Linked DNA regions of Homo sapiens. The protein of the gene in region 1 purifies or fractionates together with the protein of each later gene. This does not show direct contact. Each region holds a gene or a part of one and is shown on either strand. Other genes may lie near its edges. The genes, in order: UAP1L1 and WDR1.

The links.
Region 2: the proteins of UAP1L1 (region 1) and WDR1 fractionate together in Homo sapiens (co-fractionation; one large-scale study listed by BioGRID). This does not show direct contact.

Annotation. Positions count from the first base shown.
Region 1 is NC_000009.12:137,075,963-137,080,484, forward strand, and holds the start of UAP1L1 (UDP-N-acetylhexosamine pyrophosphorylase-like protein 1), read left to right. Parts: upstream 1-1,554; 5' UTR 1,555-1,570; coding exon 1,571-1,859; coding exon of another isoform or gene 1,860-2,087; coding exon 2,088-2,292; exon of another isoform or gene 2,293-2,324; intron 2,325-2,539; coding exon 2,540-2,715; intron 2,716-3,013; coding exon 3,014-3,186; intron 3,187-3,293; coding exon 3,294-3,487; intron 3,488-4,039; coding exon 4,040-4,180; intron 4,181-4,522.
Region 2 is NC_000004.12:10,085,800-10,089,598, reverse strand, and holds part of WDR1 (WD repeat-containing protein 1), read left to right. Parts: intron 1-857; coding exon 858-935; intron 936-1,066; coding exon of another isoform or gene 1,067-1,225; coding exon 1,226-1,306; intron 1,307-1,658; coding exon 1,659-1,892; intron 1,893-3,799.

The DNA.
Region 1 (4,522 bases):
TTACAGAAGTGAGCCACTGCGCCCGGTTTTTTTTTTTTTTTTTTTTTTGAGACAGAGTTTCGCTCTGTCACCCAGGCTGGAGTGCAGTGGTGCGATCTTGGCTCACTGTAACCTCCGCCTCCCGGGTTCAAGTGATTCTCGTGCCTCATCCTCCCAAGTAGCTGGGACTACAGGTACACGCCACCACACCTGGCTGATTTTTGTATTTTTAGTGGAGACGGGGTTTCACCATGTTGCCCAAGCTGGTCTTGAACTCCTGGGCTCAAGCGATCATCCTGTCTCGGTATCCCAAGGTGTTAGGATTACAGGCATGAGCCACTGCACCTGGCCACCATTTGAATTCTTTTATGCAGTCACATATATTACTTTTAGACTTACTATATAGTTTCTAGGAGAAAGTTTTGTGCCCAACTGGCAGAAGCTACCCTTTCATATTTTTCACAAGCAAACTATTTTATTTTTATTTTTATTGAGAAGTCTCACTCTGTCTCCCAGGCTGGAGTGCAGCAGCAGGATCTCGGCTCACTGAAACCTCCGCCTCCTGAGTTCAAGGCCTCCTGCCTCAGCCTCCCGAGTAGCTGGGACTACAGGCGCCTGCCACCACACCCGGCTAATTTTTCTATTTTTATTAGAGACGGGGTTTCACCATGTTGGCCAGGCTGGTCTCGAATTCCTGACCCCACTTAGGACTCCCAAAGTGCTGGGATTACAGGCTTGAGCCACCGCGCCGACCACAAGCAAGATATTTTAAAACCTGATAGTAAAATAACAATGTGGGCGAGGGGCTGCAGAGCGCTCTGGTCACCAGGCAATGGGAAGCAGGAAGGGTGTGCGGGAGGGAGCCCCAAGCCGCGGGATGGCATCCCGGAACCTGGTCTGGTTCCAGCCTCCCAACAGCTCAGCCGTAGCCCAGGCCTCTTCAATGCACTCTGGCCGGTTGTCTCTGCACCAGGAGGTCTCCGTCCAAGTCTTGGTTAGCGCAAAGGTGGCCATGCCACTCTCAGGTTCAAAGCCCGTGCTGGGACAGAACCTAGCTTTCCCCTGCGGGGCGTCCCTGGGGCCTCTTCCTCCCTTAGCTCAATGGTCGATTCCTCTGCCCACGCCAGCTGGCGCGACCCAGAGGGTCCTGGGATCTCTCGGGGCGGGGCGCGGAGTGGACAGGGCGGGCATGGGCCCGGGGCCTGGAGAAGAGCAGGAACGGGGACGGGAGCTCGAGGGAGCAGGCCAGGGCCAGACACCGGAGCGGGTCCAGGGGACGGAGAGGGACGGGGGACAGGCTGGAGAGATGGGGCTGGGCCCTGTCTCGAGTCTCGGACCGGACGCGGGGGGGCTGGGGGGATGTAGACAGGGCGGGGTCAGAGAGAACCCGGACAGAGTCTGGGGTGCGCAGCGGGGGTGGGCGGGCTCCAGGGCAGGGCGCGGGACCGGGCGGGATGGGGCGGGGCGGGGCGGGGCGGGGCGGGGCGCCCGGGGCCCGCCCCACTGGGGGGTCTACACCGCCCGCCCGGTCTCGTGACGCTGGTCAGTGGCGCGGGTCACGAGTGCCGACTTGACAGACGGCAGCGGCGACATGGCTTCGGAGCAGGACGTGCGCGCCCGGCTGCAGCGCGCTGGCCAGGAGCACCTCCTGCGCTTCTGGGCCGAGCTGGCGCCGGAGCCACGAGCCGCGCTGCTGGCGGAGCTGGCGCTGCTGGAGCCCGAGGCGCTGCGCGAGCACTGCCGGCGGGCGGCGGAGGCCTGCGCGCGCCCCCACGGCCCGCCGCCCGACTTGGCCGCGCGCCTGCGGCCCCTGCCCCCAGAGCGCGTGGGCAGGGCCAGCCGCAGCGACCCCGAGACACGGCGGCGCTGGGAGGAGGAAGGTAAGCGGGGTGGGAGGCCCTGGGGGCCGGCAGGGGGTCGTGCCCACGGAGCGGGTGGGAACCGAGGCCGCGCTCGGGGAACTGTAGTTCTCCTCGCTACTTTGAGACGTGTCTCGCCTCACGCGTTCCGGCCCCCGAGTCCTGGCGCCCCAGCCCCAGAGTTGGTTTCCCCTAAAGCGGAAGGGTGGGCGGGTCCCGGGCGTCCCTTCACGGCGCCCGTACCCCCAGGTTTCCGTCAGATTTCTCTGAACAAGGTGGCCGTCCTGCTGCTGGCTGGGGGGCAGGGCACTCGCCTGGGCGTGACCTACCCCAAGGGTATGTACCGTGTGGGGCTGCCCAGCCGGAAGACCCTGTACCAGCTGCAGGCGGAGCGGATTCGGCGGGTGGAGCAGCTGGCCGGTGAGCGCCACGGGACCCGCTGCACCGTCCCCTGGTGTGTCCTGCCTGCCCTACCTCGGCCCGGAGGTACCCTTCCCCACGCCCCCCCACATCCCCGCTCCAGACGCGAGCCCCAACCCCGGCACAGACCGGGACATTGCCCAGAACCGGCCCAAAATGGGGCCTGGCCCCAGCCCCAACTGGACACTGGACCCCGAACCCCGATGCCGGCTCTGGTCCGAGCCCCGTCTGCCTGCAGGGCCAGGCGTACTCGCGGCCGGCTCACCGCGCCTCCCTTGCAGGTACGTCATGACCAGCGAGTTCACTCTGGGGCCCACGGCCGAGTTCTTCAGGGAGCACAACTTCTTCCACCTGGACCCCGCCAACGTGGTCATGTTTGAGCAGCGCCTGCTGCCTGCTGTGACCTTTGATGGCAAGGTTATCCTGGAGCGGAAAGACAAAGTTGCCATGGCCCCAGGTGTGGCCCGTTCCTGAGACGGGGAGGGACCGCCCAGACTAGAACTGGGAGCGTAGTTGGGGGTCCACGCGCCCGGGTTCGCGGCTGCCCCGAGGCTGTGTGGTCCTGGGTTAGGCGCCTCTTTTTCTGGGCCTTGATCGTCATTTGTCACATGGTACACCAACTGGGCTGTCTGGTTAGTGACCAGGGCTGCCTTAGGCACAAGGCCGGGGCTTCCCCCGCCTCCAGCACGTCCTAGACTCCCAGAGCGATCCCTGGCGGGAGCCCTCGCGATGCCCATTCCCTTCTCCGTCTGCAGACGGCAACGGGGGCCTCTACTGCGCGCTGGAGGACCACAAGATCCTGGAGGACATGGAGCGCCGGGGAGTGGAGTTTGTGCACGTGTACTGTGTGGACAACATCCTGGTGCGGCTGGCGGACCCTGTCTTCATCGGCTTCTGTGTGTTGCAGGGCGCAGACTGTGGCGCCAAGGTTAGCGCCCGACTGCGCGGCGCCCCGCACCCGAGGCTGGCCCCGCCCCTCACGGAGCCCCGCCCCTCCGCCCAGCCCTCGGAACCCATCCCTGGTCTTGGCTGCAGGTGGTGGAAAAGGCATACCCCGAGGAGCCCGTGGGCGTGGTGTGCCAGGTGGACGGTGTCCCCCAGGTGGTGGAGTACAGCGAGATCAGTCCTGAGACCGCACAGCTACGTGCCTCCGACGGGAGCCTGCTGTACAATGCAGGCAACATCTGCAACCACTTCTTCACCCGAGGCTTCCTTAAGGCGGTCACCAGGTGTGCGGCAGCAGGTGGCTGCGGATTGCCGGCCAGAGCCGCCTGCGTTGACCAGGGACCCGCGGGGTCCCAGTGAGCTGAGTGCCCTGGGCCACAGCGGCTGTGGTCAGGAGTGGCTGTGGTCAGGCACGGCTGATGGGTCGGGGTGGAGAATGGATCCTGAGCTTGCAAAGGCAGAGGTGCTGGAGATCAGGCACAAGCCGTGCTCAGCAGGCAGCTGCTGTAAGGCTCTGTGATCAAGTCTGCCATCTCCTCCTTCTGGGGACCTGCCCTGGTGCCCAGGGTGCTACCTCTGCTCTGGGGCTTGCCAGTTTGTTTGCCTGGGCAGGGATGTGGCTGATGGTGCCTGGCACTTGGCACAGGGATGCAGGGAGGAGGCCTGTGCCTGCTTCTCCCTGGAGATCTGGCCCTACTCTGCCGCTTCTGTGCCCTGTAGTGTCCTTCTGCCATCCTGTCCCACCCAGCTGGGTGTGCTCAGAAGTGGGGACAGAGCCCCCAGCGGTGCCATATCTGATCTGTTTCTTTCCTCCCCTCTGCTCTCCCGTGCCCCAGGGAGTTTGAGCCTTTGCTGAAGCCACACGTGGCTGTGAAGAAGGTCCCGTATGTGGATGAGGAGGGGAATCTGGTAAAGCCGCTAAAACCGAACGGGATAAAGATGGAGAAGTTTGTGTTTGATGTGTTCCGGTTTGCTAAGTTAGTAGTAGAACTCATTTATTTTCCCCTTCTTCCTTCTCTCAGTTTTGGTGGTGGGAACTGAGGCGCAGCTGGTAGGGAAGTAGAGGCTTGAGGGAGCCAAGGGCCCCGCGGGCAAGTCTCAGGGAGAAGACCAGAGGGTGCTCTTGGCCCTGAGGGTAAGCAGCCCCTGAGGTGGGGGCATAGGGAGTCCTTGGGGCTGTGGACTTGGGAGGACAGTAGTGCCACCTCCCGGACCTTCCACTGCCCCCACCCATGGTTAGGAGAGGTCTCCTGGCCAGGTTGCCAGGGCGGCTCGCAGGGCCTTTGGCCCTCACTGCAGGGGTCCCAGGGTTGGGCCTT
Region 2 (3,799 bases), on another chromosome or scaffold:
TGGCAGCTTTACAACTGCTTATTTAAGGATCAGTCTCTGATACAAACTCTTGTTGACTGCGGAAAGAATGCATTCATTTCCTTATTCGAGTAACAGAGTCGCCCCTGGAAGTCATGTCATTTCCTTTTAGTCGCTCAGGCTCTTGTTCTTGATGAAGGTCATAATCATTAACTTTGTTTAAAAGTTAATTATTGGCCAGGCGCAGTGACTTACTCCTGTAATCCCAGCACTTTGGGAGGCCAAAGCGGGGAAACATGAGGTCAGGATACTGAGACCATCCTGGCTAACAAAGGGAAACCCCATCTCTACTAAAAATACAGAAATTAGCCAGGCGTGGTGGCGGGCACCTGTCGTCCCAGCTACTCGGGAGGCTGAGGCAGGAGAATGGCGTGAACCCGGGAGGCGGAGCTTGTAGTGAGCAGAGATTGTGCCACTGCACTCCAGCCTGGGCAACAGAGCCAGACAGGGCTGGTGCCTCCAGGAAGAGGCCTCCTGGTCTCAGCCATCGTGAAGCTTAAGGATTGGGGCTTGAGCTCTTTCAGAGCCCAGAGGGAAGAGGGCAGCTGCTGGGGGCACCTCACTGGGGGGGGCATAACTGGAGGTGGTCTGCCTTCGCTCGGGCTAATCAGCTTTCCCAGCAGGTAGAGCGGTCAGCATGGCAGGCAGGCTGGAGCAGACTCCTGCCCCTCCACTAAGGGACTGCCCAGGATGTTTTTTTAAGCTCTGAAATTTTCCAGTGGACTAACAGTTCACACTGATGAACAGCTGGAGCTGCAAGCTGTGTTTCATAGAGAGCATTCTTGAACCTAGAGTCAGGCCTGCGGCCCCTCATCAGGCAGGTAATTGTTTTCCTGCAGGACCACAGCCGCTTTGTCAACTGTGTGCGATTCTCTCCTGATGGGAACAGATTTGCCACAGCCAGTGCTGACGGCCAGGTAAGAACTGGGATGGGTTTTGGGGTGGGGAATGGCTTGTCTGCCTGCTCCCGTGACTGCTCAGAGCCGCAGGCTGCCTAATGCTAGTCCTGACATGCAGAACTTAGACATCGCCCTCCCCACATCTGCAGACTCGTCGTCAGAGCCCAGTAAATGCATGTCTGCTTTTAAACCACACTGGGAGCTTAGTCTGTGAGCCCCGGTTTTCTACAGCCACAGTCCATGGAGAAACTGCTTACTCCAGAGGGTGTTCACACACACATGACCCACATGTTTTTATTTCTTGGAAGATATACATCTATGACGGGAAGACTGGGGAGAAGGTGTGCGCGCTGGGCGGAAGCAAGGCCCACGACGGTGGGATTTACGCAGTGAGTATGAGCGTGTTTCCCGGCCTAGTGGTGGGAATTTGGCCGAGTCCACGTGTCAGTCCATCCACACTCACTCCGGAGTTAGACAAAAACTTGAAATGAGGGGCTATAAGTCGGGGCGGTTTTATATCTGCCCAGAAAAGCTTTAAGGTCGCAATAAGGTGATGGGAGAAGGTAGTGGCTGGAACGGGAGACCTGGAGGCGGGTGTTGTCCTTGGCCTCACTCATGTCCCACCCTCTCTCTGGGCTCCTTCTGTCCTACTCAAACAGTCGCAGTGGACAAGCTGCTTTTTGGGGTCTCTCTCCAGTCTGTAGTCCTCTGGCACATGACACACTGCTTTTTTCTGAATAGATTAGTTGGAGTCCCGACAGCACCCATTTGCTTTCTGCTTCTGGGGACAAAACTTCCAAGATTTGGGACGTCAGCGTGAACTCCGTGGTCAGCACATTTCCCATGGGCTCCACGGTTCTGGACCAGCAGCTGGGCTGCCTATGGCAGAAGGACCACCTGCTCAGTGTCTCCCTGTCCGGGTACATCAACTATCTGGACAGAAACAACCCCAGCAAGCCCCTGCACGTCATCAAGGTAAGGCCTGCCCTGGGGAAGGCTCTGCCCGCTGGGTGGACAGGGAAGAGACCAGAGTGGCCAGCAAGGAAGGGGAACCGAGGGGAAGCCAGGTGGAAGCTAGAGAGGTGTCCTCAGGCCTCCTTGGCCCTTGGGGTTTTGGTGGAAGGCTGGGATGCTGGTTGCTTTCTTGGGACATGAGTTTAGCCATGGTGGCAGGCCAGGTGCCAAGTTCCCCTTGAGCTACTGTGAGAACTGGAGAGTCAGGGCCTAGTGATTCGGGGCAGTGGCCATCACCCCCAGCTGTTGAGAGCGGTTACTTCCTGCAGGGCTCTGCCTTCCCTGAATTGGGAGTGCACAGCCTGTGCTTTACCCGACTGCAGGCAAGAGCAGAAGCTCACTGAGCACCAGGGCAGGTGACGGGGCATCGCTGAGGTCCAGGGGCAGGAGGGAGGAGCAAGAGCAGGTGGCCTTGGGCCTGGGCCTTGGCGCTGCCTGGAGTTTGAATGTGGTGGGCAGGGTGTGAAGGAGATACTGGAGTTCCATAAGGGAGCGATGGGAGCAGGAGGAAACGGAGTTAGAATCATCCATGGGTCCCAGGTGTGAAGGCCCCAAATGCCAACCTGGGGAGGAGCAAGGTGCCTGCTTCTGAACCCTAACCCGGAAGGGTTCACTTGAGCCAAAGGCTCCCTGTGTTCCATTGGCTGGGGGGGTCCTGCCTTCTCCCTCCACCCACACCAGCCAAGTTGACGCCTCTGGGAATCTCGCAGCTGGACAGGAGCCAGAGCAGGGGTCCCTTCTGTATCCTCAGGTCCTCCTCTCACAGCAGCGCCCTCGCCTGCTTCCCACACTGCATCTGCTGGGAACTCCAAGTCAGGTTCCCCCAGCGCTGGTGGCCCAGGGTGGGTGACCCCTCCTGCTATTCTAAGCTGTAATATCAAGGCAGGTGGACAATGCACTTCATCCCAGCAGCCCTTCTCGGGCTCCTGCTTTAAGCCACTCGGGGAGACAAACCCTAGCACTTCCCTCACCCATTGCATCCTGCTGCCGTGGAGCTCTGGGGGACCAGCCTCTGCAGAGGGTCTGAACCCTGCAGGGCTAGTGTGGGCCAGCCTGGAGCAGCCCCCGGGCCTGTGCACTCGGCCCGTGCTGTGCTGTCAGTGGCTCCTTCACACCACGGCTTCTAGGAGGGGCTGCTAGAATCACCAAATCCATTCTACATGGGAGTTTGCCCACGAGGAAGGGGCCTCGTTAACGTTGTGTGTGTGACTCCTACGGACCAGGTCACCTCAACGCTCATGCATAGAGTCACGGTTCCTTTGTGCCGGGGCAGTGGGGGCAGCAGCACTGCTGAGAGGGGGAAGGCTGAACCATAAAGGTTCACTAGACGTGGCCTCGAGGATAGAGGGGAATCGGGAGCGCCTCCTTGCTGGGCTCACAGCCCAGGGTGATGAGTATAAAAAGGAAGGCACGCACAGCATGGGGCCGAGGAGGTTGTTGCCTGGGGGAGCTGAGGGCTCTTGTCGAGACCATGCTCCAGTGGGCCTCCAAGTGGGATGGTGAGAAATTGTACACGGGTGAGTAAGGCTTCGCTACTGCCCAGAAAAACAGTTTCCCATGAGCCATCCCCGACAGTGTTCTCCAGGTGTCAGCCCTCAGGTCTGCCGTCCCGTTTCTGTTGGCAGGGCTGCCCTGAGAGTGCTCTTCCTAATACCACTGCTGCCAACTGTCTGGGGCCAGTGCACCCGGCCTGCCACCGTGGCTAAACTTATGTCCCAAAAAAGCAACCAGCATCCCACCCTTCCACCAAAACCCCAAGGGCCAGTTGTCAAAACCCCCATGTCCCAACTCTCAAATGCCACACCTGTGTGAGTCACGCAGATGCTGATGTTCGGTGCTGATCTGGGCTGCAGTGGGATGGAGCAGCA